Linked DNA regions of Homo sapiens. The protein of the gene in region 1 purifies or fractionates together with the protein of each later gene. This does not show direct contact. Each region holds a gene or a part of one and is shown on either strand. Other genes may lie near its edges.

Region 1 (3,814 bases):
TGGGCGGTGGTCTCCTCTTCCTCGCGGCCTCTGCCCGTCCACTGCCCGGCCCTGACATCACGAACGTGGCAGGCCAGCCTCTTCCATCACGAACAGGCCAGTCGAGAAGACAAGACATTCAGAGGTGGGGTCAGTGTTGGGGCCCGGTCACGCCTCTGCCTTCTCAGGGTGCAAAGTTGTCTTCTTGATGAGCTGAGGACAGAGGTTCTGGTGTCCCCTCAGTGCCCTGGCGGGAGGTACTCATGGCGACCACCCTTGCCTTGGAGCCTCAGCACGTTTTCAGGAAAAAGCCGCGCTCTCCCAGGAATACAACGGGGGCTTCCCAAGCCCAGCTCTCCCTGGCACTCAGATGGACGGCGGCCTTCACTGGAGGTCTGAACCTCAACGGTGTGGCCCTGAGACTCTGGGTGGGAAGGAAGGAGCTGGGGCCAGGGACGTCCTGCTTTGACAAGAATCCATTTATTGTGTTTATCAATACAAATGTGGAGTTTCCATTCCTTTTCCTTTTCTTCTCACTAATGATGTTTGGAGCTCATTGGCCCACGGTCACCTGTACACACCAGCGCCCACACACACCAGCGCCCACACACACCAGCACCCGCACACACCAGCGCCCACACACACCAGCGCCCGCACAAACCAGCGCCCGCACACACCAGCACCTGCACACACGTGGGGAACCATCGCTTTGATCATTAGTGCACCCAGCACAACTCCCCACCGTGTCCCCGGCTCTCCCCACCGAGGGGTCCTGGTGCCTGTTGTCCCCTCTGTGCTGTGTGTGCCGGTGGTGTTCTGCCACCCCCCAACCCTGGCCCCTGCCTGCCCTCTGCCACTGTCCTGCGCCCAGGCATCCTGAGAGGTGCAGCTGCTGCCGCCCTTCCTGATACGCCGGCACTGTGACTCCAGGCAGCGGCTGAGGGCACCCGGCACAGGGACGAGCTGCTCAGGCGCCAGTGGCACAGGGCCATGAGGATCCAGCCTCTGCTCTCTGGGGCTGTTTTTTTTTGTGGTTTTTTTGCCATTTTTAAAACTTTTTGTGCTCTCAGCTAAAGGGATCCCCACATCTTCCATAGTGAACAGCTCTACGTTTGCTGTGGAGAGAAAAGAGACCGCCACTGCTGTCTTGGGCACACATGTGTGGCCTCGAGGGTCTGGGAAGGGTCTGGATCTGAGCGGAGGGAGGGAGGGAGGGAGCCAGTGTCAGTCCAGGGTCCGGGGGAGGTGAGGCCTAAGCCTCCTAAATCTTCTCAACCCACCGGGCCGGGCCTTAGGGCGGCTGGAGTGCGAATTTCCTAAACCCACCGGGCCAGGCCTTAAGGCGGCTGGAGTGCGAATTTCCTAAGATGAACAACGGCCCGTCCGGAGGTCCAGACCCCTTACTAGAGGAAGGTCCCAGAGCATCCCAGACTCCATGGCAGGAAACTGATGGAGCTCACGGCTGAGGACAGAATTCCACAGCCCAGGCCCGTGGGAACTGCCTCTCCTGACCTGCAGCGCCCAAAGGTCTGGGTGGTCCCAGGGCCAGGCAGGATCCTGGGGTCCCTTCCCCACCTAACACTGTGCCAAAGAGCTCGAAGGCGTTGCTCATCTCTGCTGAGCGGCCTCAGGGGTTCCAGGCCCTGCGGGAGATGTCCCCACCCCTCGTGCTGATGCACCCGGCTGCTGTCCACGCAAGCCAGGACCCCCTTCCTGGCCTTCCAGCTGCTGCAGGCAGGAAGGGATTTGCTGGCCCTGGACAAGGAAGGAAGTGTCCTCAGTTTCCAGCCCCTAAAGGGAGCCAGGGTCCCTCCTGGCAGAACCTGTCCAGGAACGGCAGCTGTGCTGCTTCCTGAGGTCGATAACAGATGCCACAGGAGGTGTGTGGGGCAGGGTGCCCACCCAGGCTGCCTTCCTCCCGCCCTCCTCGTCCTGCCCTGCTGCTGCTCCATCTTCCCCAGCAGCCCTGGCTCTGGCATCTGTGCCCATGGGGTTTGCATAGCCCTCTCCACATTATAGAAGAAGGAGCAGGCACCCTGAGGAGATAGGGGTTGTCAGGTGGAGGAGTTGGGTCCTGTCTCCCCCAGCCTGGTTCTCACGGGGCCCACACCGAGGCTGGCTGCTGAGCTACCCTGCATGGGAGTGCTGCATGGCGGGTGCCCAGCCTGAGGTTGTTTATTTGCATTCCTGGCGCCCTCCACACACCCAGCTATTTGCAGCTCTGACCCTTGTCCTGGCTTGGCCATGCTGGATTCCCAGCCCAGGCTTCCCTCTCAATTCCCTTCCCAGTGAGAAGCTCGGCAAGGGCGGGTCCCGGAAAGCACAGCTGTGATCTGGGAGGTGCTGAGCACCCACCTGCGACCCATGGCGGGGGAGGGCCGAGTAACGACAGCATGGCGGTGCCCCCGAGAGGGAGGGGCATAGACCCCGCCCGGACAAACCCTGACACGTTCCCTCCTTCAGGGGCGCGATGTATGGAACCCAGTCCTGAGAGGCCTGCATGCAGTCAGCAGGAGCCGACCCTGGGAATGGACGCGATGGCCTCGGAACACAGGGATGTCCTCGTGCTGCTGCCCAGCCGGGAGCAACTGCGGCTGGCCGTGGGGGTGAGCAGGGCCCTGGGTGGCCGTGGGGGTAAACAGAGCTGTGGGGGTGAGCAGGGCTCCGGGTGGCCGTGGGGGTGAGCAGGGCCCTGGGTGGCCGTGGGGGTGAGCAGGGCCCTGGATGGCCTTGGGAGTAAACAGAGCCATGGGGGTGAGGAGGGCCCTGGGTGGCCATAGGGGTGAGCAGGGCTGTGGGGGTGAGCAGAGCCATGGGGGTGAGCAGGGCCCTGGGTGGCCGTGGGGGTGAGCAAGGCTGTGGGGGTGAGCAGGGCCGTGAGGGTGAGCAGAGCCGTGGGGGTGAGCAGGGCTGTGAGGGTGAGCAGAGCCGTGGGGGTGAGCAGGGCCGTGGGGGTGAGCAGGGGTATGGGGTGAGCAGAGCCTCAGGACACAGCCTGTGTATGGAAAGTCCCTGGACCGCCTCACTCTGCTTAGGCCAGGTGTCTGTGAGGTGTCAAGGGCCAGCCCTTTCACTGGGCCTGTGAAGGAAACATCCCTGATAGACGTTGCTGTGAGAAATAAGTTTATGGTTCAGCACATCCTTCCCGGGAGGGAGCGCTGAGGGAAGAGCGCCAGGAAGCCGGTTTCCAAGGAGCAGCTCCTGTCTTGTGTTCAGACGTCACCATCTCTATGCTTCTCTATTTCCTTTTCTTTTCCCTTTCCCCCATTTTGTCTACCTGTTTTAGTTGAGTTCATGGCGACAGGAGTTGAGATGGTACTTTCATTTTAATGATTAATGTGGATAATGAAAATGTGGCAATTAAAATGAGAGTGGTTTGTTGAAGAACGATGACTTTCTGCATAGCTAATGTATCATTGCTACCTGGAATGGAGTATGACTTGCTAGTAATATCCTGGTTCAAGTCCCCTGGGAATCTGGGAGTCTCTTGTCTGCTTCGGGATAGAGTTCTGTGTTTACGTAAACGCCCACATCTATGTTTGTGGCAAAATCTTCCCCAAGACTCTGTGTCCCCACCCAGCAACGAGAAGCTGGAGTTGAGCTAATGGGGGATGTCCTGTAGTTTCCTGGGGTCCCCAGCAGTGCCTCGGGCTGGGGGAGGGGTCATAAGAGGACCTGTTGTGGGGAAGATGCTGGGGCTTTGGCCCCCTACCCCATAAGAGCTGGAACTTTTAGGTTTCTTGCACGGAACTTCACGGTAAGATTTTAACTGAGGGATCATGCAGCTAGAACATAGTGAACCGCCTGTTCTGAACAGGTGAATCGTGCTCATCTG
Region 2 (3,814 bases), on another chromosome or scaffold:
TTATGTCAGCTCCCTGCTGCTGCAGGGCAGAAGGAAGGAGGGAGCCCGGGAGACCGAGCCACACAGGAAGCAAATGAGAACACAGCGTGGGACTGGGAAGCGTGGGCTCGGCGGGGGGGGGGGGGACACTGCCACCCTTGGCTCTTGGGCAAAGCTCACGACCTGTTTCTGAGAGTCTGAGGCCCACTTGACTTGGGTGAGAGCCAGGAACGCACTCCCCAGCCCAGAGCTGTGAAGCTGGGGTCTCTTCCTGTGCCCCAGGATACTCTCCCCACTCTGGATCCCAGCAGCCTCATCCTCCAGGAAGCCCTCTGGACTTCCCCTCGACTGGGCCAGGTCCCCACACAATAGACAGCCATGAGATACAGGGGAAAAAAGGACTGAGAGATGTTGCCAGCCCCCAAGGGGTCGGAGGGGCAGCAAAAGGCATCCTTACTGTGAAGTTGGGGTAAAGCCTTGGCCGAGCTGTGGGGACCCCCTCCCTGGAGCAGAGGGAGATACGGACGCTGGAGAGGCTTGGCCAGGGCAAGACAGGCCTGGAGGCTGAGTGGATGCAGTAGGAGCAGAGCTGGGGGAGGAGTTCAGAGGCCTCTGCAGAGCTGGGGCTGTGGGTGTTGGGGGCAGGGACAGGCAAGGGGGTTCGCCGTGCTAGGAGGGAAGCGGGGCCAAGCCGGCCTCAGACCAGGGCCTGCTGGGGTTCTGAGGGGATCCTAAGGACCAAGGCTGGCAGAGGCCGGGGCACCCCAGGAGCCTTCGACGTCACACCCTGCCTATTTGGGATGGAAAAAACGTTCTAAGGGACGTCAGGGAACAGCGGCGGAAGTGCGTGTGGCTTTGCTATGGCAACCAGGCCTGTTTCTATAGAATTTAGCGGCCTGGGCTTGGGCCAGGGGGCTGAGGCAGGGGCTGGGCTGGGGCGGGCAGTCTGTGGGTGCCCTGGGCAGGCTCTGTGATGCCAGGGGCCACGCTCGGAGCTCTGGCCGCAGTCCAGCCAGCCGGCCACACACAGCCCTGTGGCAGGCGGGGCGGAGGCTTCTGGAGCCGTCCCAGGCTCCTCCCAGGGCAGTTGCAGGCCTCACAGGCACACCCACCCATGGCTTGCGCCCCACACATGTTCAGGGGACCCCCACACCCCACCTGCTCCGGGTTGCTGGAGGAGCTGCTTTAAGGCCGGGCCTGGCCCGAGCAGGGAGCTGCATCTGGAAGCCCCCATCTCCCCCACTCAGCAGGGCCCCCCAGGCTGCTGCCAAGTGGGCGGGGACCCCTGACCCAGACCCCCTCCAGGTGTGTCTCCAGGGAAAGGGGTGGGTGTCCGCATCCCACATGCCCCCAGGGCGATGCCCCAGCAGAGCCCTCTAAGCCCAGCTTGTGGGAGCTAGGGAGGGGCTCCTGAGGGATTTGCCGAAGAGGGGCTGGGGTGGAGGCAGCGAGGCGCTGAGGAAGACTTCCACTTCCTTATTGCACAGTGGGTGCCCCCAGGGCCCCGGAATCCCTCCTACGTGAATGTGGGGTGGACAAAGACCCTGGGCCTGAATCCCAGATTCAGGCGAGGTCAGGGAGGGGCTGCCCTGCGTTGGCCCCAGCTGGAGGGGACGGTGGGGGGCCAATCCTGCCCTTCCCCTCTGCACGGTGCTGACCCACGCACCTCGCCCCTGAAGGTCAGCACTGGCCTTCCCCAGGGTGGATGCTGCGCTTCCTCAATGACTTTTCTCTTTCAAAGATCGAATACTCCTGGAGCATCCAGCATGGGCAGTGTGGACGGGCAGGTGGTGTGGACGGGCAGGTGGTGTGGACAGGCAGGCGGTGTGGATGGGCGGGCGGTGTGGACGGGCGGGAGGTGTGGACCGGCGGGCGGTGTGGGTGGGCGGGAGGTGCTCGGGCAGGCGGTGTGGATGGGCGGGCGGTGTGGGTGGGCGGGCGGTGCTCGGGCAGGCGTGGTGGGGACATGGAAGGGAGGGGTAGGGGGGCTGATGGGGAAAGCCCTTTCTCAGCCACTAGCTGCCCCCATGGCTTTTCCCGGTTTGGGAAGAGTCTCTCATTCTATGGAACACACCCCCACTTCCCCAGCACTGGGAACTGGAGGGCAGAGAGGCCAGAGAATTGAAGGGGAATTCTCACTCCGGTTGACAACTTCCTGCCCGGCCACCCCCCAGCCTCGATGACTGTGGGGTGGGGAAAGAGGCACTCTCCCTCTGGGGGGCCAGGGCATGCCCCCAGAAAAGCCTCCCAGCCATCAGGGGATGCTGAGCTATTGTGCTTTCCAGTTGTGGCCCAAGGGGTCCTCTCCCTACTGGGGAAACTTACTGCAAAACCCAGTCCCTGGGGACTGGGCTGAGGGGAGGCCTCGGGCATCTTGCTCAATTCCGAGGTGCGGGGATGGATCCTGCCTTAGGGCGGGACACAAACGTTCCCTGGCCTCCAGCCCCAGGGTCCCGCCCGCCTCCATGTCCCTGGCTGGGGCTGAACACTGAACCCGAGTGAACTGGGAAGCAGCCTCCTGTGCAGAGTATCCCCCTCCTTCCCTCCCTCCTTCCGTCCCCCTCCCTCCCTCCGTCCCCCTGCTTCCCTCTGCCCCCTCCCTCCCTCCGTCCCCTCCCTCCTTCCGTCCCCCTCAGCTGGCGCTCGATGGGGTCTTGCGCACACCCCACAGATCCTGTGGTGTTGTCCCCGTGGCCCGGCTGCTGTTGGCCAGCTGGGACTTTCTGGCTGATTTGCACATTGCCCTGCGTGCCTTTCTGTTCACCTCACTTCAGAGTGAGGGGGAAGCCAGACAGTTGCTCTCCCAGACTGTGAGCAACAGGCACTGAGGCCAGCCCGACCCATCCCAGGGGAGTGCCTGCTGGGGTCCTGGCCACCTGGGCCCCCGGGCAGGCATCACTGGCAGGGCTTGCAGCTGGCCCTGGGGCCCCGGAAGCTTGCAGTACAGGGAGCTGATGGGTTTGTAAAATGCAGGTCAGTGTCTCCTAGTGGCTGCCCGGTGATCCCCTCCCTGCTCCCAGAGGGCAGGAGCCAACCTGGGGCTCCCAAAAGGGCTGAACCTCCTGTGCCGAGTCATGGCGCCCTGCACTTCAGGCTATCAGGGCCTTACCCCAGCTGGGACATCCTCACCCCAAGCACAATGGCAAAAGGCAAGCCCTGGCCAGCTCTCCCCGACCTTCCTGCCGGGAGCTGCTGGAGACGGGATAGACATGTGCCAGGGCAGAGCAGCCTTGTAGACACACCACGACCACACCTCTGTCCCAGGGCTGACTCCTCTGAGCCTGGCTGCAGGTGTGTGGCACTGCCCACACTCAGGAGCCCCTGCCTCTTCCACAAGAGAAGTCCCCCGAGAGCCTAGTCTGGGTCACACAGGGCCAAGCCCCTCGAGTCGCAGTGGGGCCTGGGGAAGGCCGAGGGAGGCTTTGGCCAGGCCCCATCTCCCGAGACCATGGGACGCAAAGATCAGGTGGGGCCAGGTAGCTCGTGGCGCTGCCAACTGCAGGGGCTGAGATGTCGGGTTGAGCCCGAGTCCTGAAGGCTGAGTGGCTCCAGGGTGGGTGGCCTTCCAGGTGGCATTGGAAGGGACAGGTGGGCCTGGGCAGCCTAGAGAATGGGAGAGGAGACAGCAGGAGTGGTAGACAGCCCAGGAGCTCAGGTGCAGGGAACCAAGGGCTTGAGAGCCAGCCCCTCCCTGCACACCTGTAGGCCGGGCTGGGGGGCCCCAGGCCAGACTGTGGGCACGGTGGTGGGTGATGAGTGGCATCTTGAAGGCGCATGCAGGGCGGGCATGGCCAAAGGGACCCAGTCAGGAGGGACTGATGGAGGAGGTACTGGA
Region 3 (3,600 bases), about 130 Mb from region 1:
GGGCCCAGAGCCCTCACCTCTGAGACCTCCTGGTTGGTGGAGAGACAGAGGCTCTAAGTATTCCTAGGATGGGGAGGGGTGGGGAGAAACAAGGCCATGTGCTTTAGTCCAGAGAGACCCAAAGTGGAGTGACCTCCATTCCTGGCTGCTACACCTCGGCTGAGTTATGGAACCATCTATATGGATGTCAGGGGAGGAAGGAGGTGGATTCCTGGGTGTGGCTGTGGCACAAGTTCTGAGTGTGGCCACTGGAGGCAAGTTTTCAACTTGTCCCTCTTCATCCTCACGGTCTGGGGAAGGGAAAAAGGCAATTGGGCCCAGGCTGACAGCTTGATCAGAGCCTGGTGCCCAGCAGAGGCCTGACATCACAGGCCTTCAATAAATGCTTATGGAATGAAGGCATATTTTTCCCTTCTAACTTTTGGGGATGATACAGGAGGCCTGACTCCTGGGAGCAAGTGAAACTGTCCCAGGGGCTGCCCCTTCTCAGTGAGGTTCCAGTGACCCATCGCTGTGGCTCAGTTGGTGTGGGGTAATAGGAGAATACCCGGCTAAAAATCAGAGGCTTGGTTGGCTTCTGCCTCCAGTTGCCAGGAACCTGCCGTGTGCCCTTGATGGGTGGTGTTCCTTCTCTGGGCTTTGGTCATCTCTTTTTGGCACAGTGGACTGGATGAGGTTTTTTAAACTGCAGTTTGCAACCCATTTGGGACATTAAAAAAAACCAGTTCAGTGGGTTACAATCAGCATTAAAGCAACAACAAGAACACAACTGAAATAGAATAGAAAATATCAGCATGCATCAAAGGTCATAAAAGTAAGTATTGTTTGGTGATCTATTGTTTTGCTTATATATAGACGAAGGTGTGGACTGGTCTGCTGTAAAACTTGTTACTGTTTGCCATGGTGAAAAAACAAAACAAAACTGTAAAACACGGTACTTAGCGATCCTGGAGGTGTCCTTCCCTCCCACATCGTTCCTGGGGGTCTTCGTAAAACAAACAAACAAACAAACAAACAAAACAACAACAACAACAAAAAAACCACTGCCTGGGGCTCTTCTCCTCCCAGGGTCAGCAGCTGTCTCTTTGCTTTTAGCTGTCTCCACCCCTCCCCTAGCCTCTCTTCTTCCTGCTTCAGTCACCGAGTCCCCTCCTCCCTCTCTCCCAGGGACAAACGCCCCCCCACAACTCAGGAAGTGGGGTTGGGGGGTCCGAAGGGAGCAAAAGTGATCGGATGGCGGTGGCAATGGGCACCCTATCTTAGGCGTTCAAATAAAGGACTAGGAAGCAAACACCCAAGCACCGGGGAACAGAACAGAAAGTAAGCGAGCCCGGGACGCGAATTTGAGGGCAGGACTTCGGGAGCCAGAGCCTGGCGGCGCTGCCGCAGCGGGTCACTCCCAGGGGGCCGGCACCCAGACTTGGCATCGTTAGCGCTTGGGTGCTCTGTCAACTAGCGAAGGTAATTTTCATCCCTGCTTTTTTTTTTTTTTTGAAAGGAAAGACGGAAGGAGCCAAGAGTTTTGGAGCCAACTCCTGGAGAGGGAGCGGCTGAACTGATTCGGAAGTTGGATCTCTTTGTACACAGGAATGCGGAGAGAAAAAAAACAAAACCCACCCCATTGCTTCATTTCCCCTCCAAGCCTGAGCACTTTCTATTGTGCAATGAAAAGGCTTTTCACGTTGAGAAAAATGAATCCCGAATTTGCTCTGCAAAGGGATGAGCGCGCCTCTGGGCGCCAGCCTGCTCTCAGCTGGGCGCGGAGACCGCGCGGTGGCCGCAGGGCGGCCGCGGCCAGGGCGCTCCAGGGCGCGCCCTCCGCGAGCGGCTCCGGGGTGACGCCCGCCGGAGAGCTGGACTCCCCCTTCCGCGGGCGCCTGCACTGGCTCTTAGCCAGCCGAGGGCCCGGGTGCAGATAGTCCGGGAACCCCGAGGGCGGAGAGCTCCCCACTACGCCTGGGCCTCCCAGGGATGGCAGCTCCGAGAGCCCCCTAGACCCGGTGCCTTGCAGGACGCCTCTGGAGATCAGGAGGGCTGGCGGCGCATTCGGCGTCCGGGAGGCCGGGCCCCGGACGCGCGAGGAGCGCGGGGCGCGGGAAGGCAGGCGGGTGCACATGGGTGCCGGCGGGCGAGCTGCGGGGGGAGGGGGGGCGGGGTGTGGCCTCCCCGCCTCCCGGGCGGGATTTGCATGTGTGTGGTGGCCCCAGACTTCCTGCTCCTTCTACGCTGCAGGTACGCGCGGGCCGGGCGGGGCGGGCGGGCGGCGGGCGCGCCAAGACGTGGGCACCTCCTCACCCGGACCCCGGGCCCCGCCGAGCCGCCTCCTGGCTCCCGTGGCCGCCAGCCCGCCCCGGCCGCACCGAGCGTCGGGATCCGAGGTGGGAGCGTACCCCTCCCCGCTCCCCGGACGCCTCAGTCCTCCGCACTGAGCTTGGCCACGCGCCCCTAGGCGCCCCCCACGCCCTGGGCCCCGGAGGGCCGCAGCCATGAGTGAAATGTCCAGCTTTCTTCACATCGGGGACATCGTCTCCCTGTACGCCGAGGGCTCCGTCAATGGCTTCATCAGCACTTTGGGGTGAGTGAGCCGAGCTCGAGAGGGGCGCGGGTAAAGAGGGGGCGCCGTGGGCCCTGGTGCCAGCTGCGTGCGTCCAGCCGCCGCCCCCCGATAGAGGCCTGGACGTCCCCCTAGTCTCAAGGAGCGGGAACGGCTCGCCTCCTTCTTTTACAGAAAGGAAGTGAAGTGTTTGCTCAGGTAGGACTCGGGCTCCCTACTGGAGTTGGCAGGAGGAGCCTCCCTCGGCGGCGCAGCCTCTACCCTCCCGCGCACGCCTTTGGAGGGGGCGGAGGGACGGAGGCTTCCTTTGCAGGTGGTCCCGGGGGCGGGCAGGTGGGTGGCTGGAGGCTGAGTTGGGGAAGGGCAGCCGGGCCGAGACGTGCCCGGCTCTGAGGGTAGGGCGGAGCTGTCGGGAGTGGGCAGGCTCAGCTTGGAGCCCGTAATCCTCTATTACCGATCCCGTGGTGCCTTTGAGGGGTCGCACCTTCTCCTCACAGCTCTCTCCCTGTTCTTCCCAGCTTCAGTAGGAGTGTCTTCTCAGCCCTCCCCTTCCAGGCTTCAAGGTCCTGGCCAGCTGCCCCTTCTCCCCGCCTCTCCCATTCAATTTCCTGCGCCGGTCATCTGGCGCCCTTGGGTCCTTGGTTCTAGCTTCTCTCCAGCACTTCACAAACATTAATTAATTCTGGCCGCCACCTCCCAGGGTCTGGGCTGGATGAACAGGGAATCAGTTCACGTCCCTGGAGAGGGCCAGGCCTGTAGCAGGGAGAGGGCAGGAGAGAAATTAGGTAGAGAGGATGGGTTTATCTTCAGAGGAGCAGCTGGATGTGATTCGCTGGATGGGAGCGTAGGTGGTTTCTCCAGCCAGACCCCAGGGCAGGGTCGGCTATCTTTGTCCCGTTTACAGTCTGGGGGCCTGGGTTAAATTGTCTCATCCTCCCAACCACACATGGCTGTCCTCTAGGGTACACCCACCCTCCTCTGCTGATCCACTGAGTGGGACCAGCCAGCCGCGTGGTGCCTTCTTTCTGATGGCCTTGGAGGACAAC

Evidence for each region.
Region 2: the proteins of FRMD1 (region 1) and TRAF7 purify together in Homo sapiens (co-immunoprecipitation; 3 studies listed by BioGRID and IntAct, with this or other methods). This does not show direct contact.
Region 3: the proteins of FRMD1 (region 1) and ITPR3 purify together in Homo sapiens (co-immunoprecipitation; 3 studies listed by BioGRID and IntAct, with this or other methods). This does not show direct contact.

Annotation. Positions count from the first base shown.
Region 1 is NC_000006.12:168,077,653-168,081,466, reverse strand, and holds the start of FRMD1 (FERM domain-containing protein 1), read left to right. Parts: upstream 1-2,254; 5' UTR 2,255-2,372; coding exon 2,373-2,585; intron 2,586-3,814.
Region 2 is NC_000016.10:2,158,657-2,162,470, forward strand, and holds part of TRAF7 (E3 ubiquitin-protein ligase TRAF7), read left to right. Parts: intron 1-3,814. UniProt on the Homo sapiens protein: E3 ubiquitin and SUMO-protein ligase that plays a role in different biological processes such as innate immunity, inflammation or apoptosis. Potentiates MAP3K3-mediated activation of JUN/AP1 and DDIT3 transcriptional regulators.
Region 3 is NC_000006.12:33,619,117-33,622,716, forward strand, and holds the start of ITPR3 (inositol 1,4,5-trisphosphate-gated calcium channel ITPR3), read left to right. Parts: upstream 1-2,205; 5' UTR 2,206-2,486; coding exon 2,487-2,575; intron 2,576-2,672; exon of another isoform or gene 2,673-2,752; intron 2,753-3,600.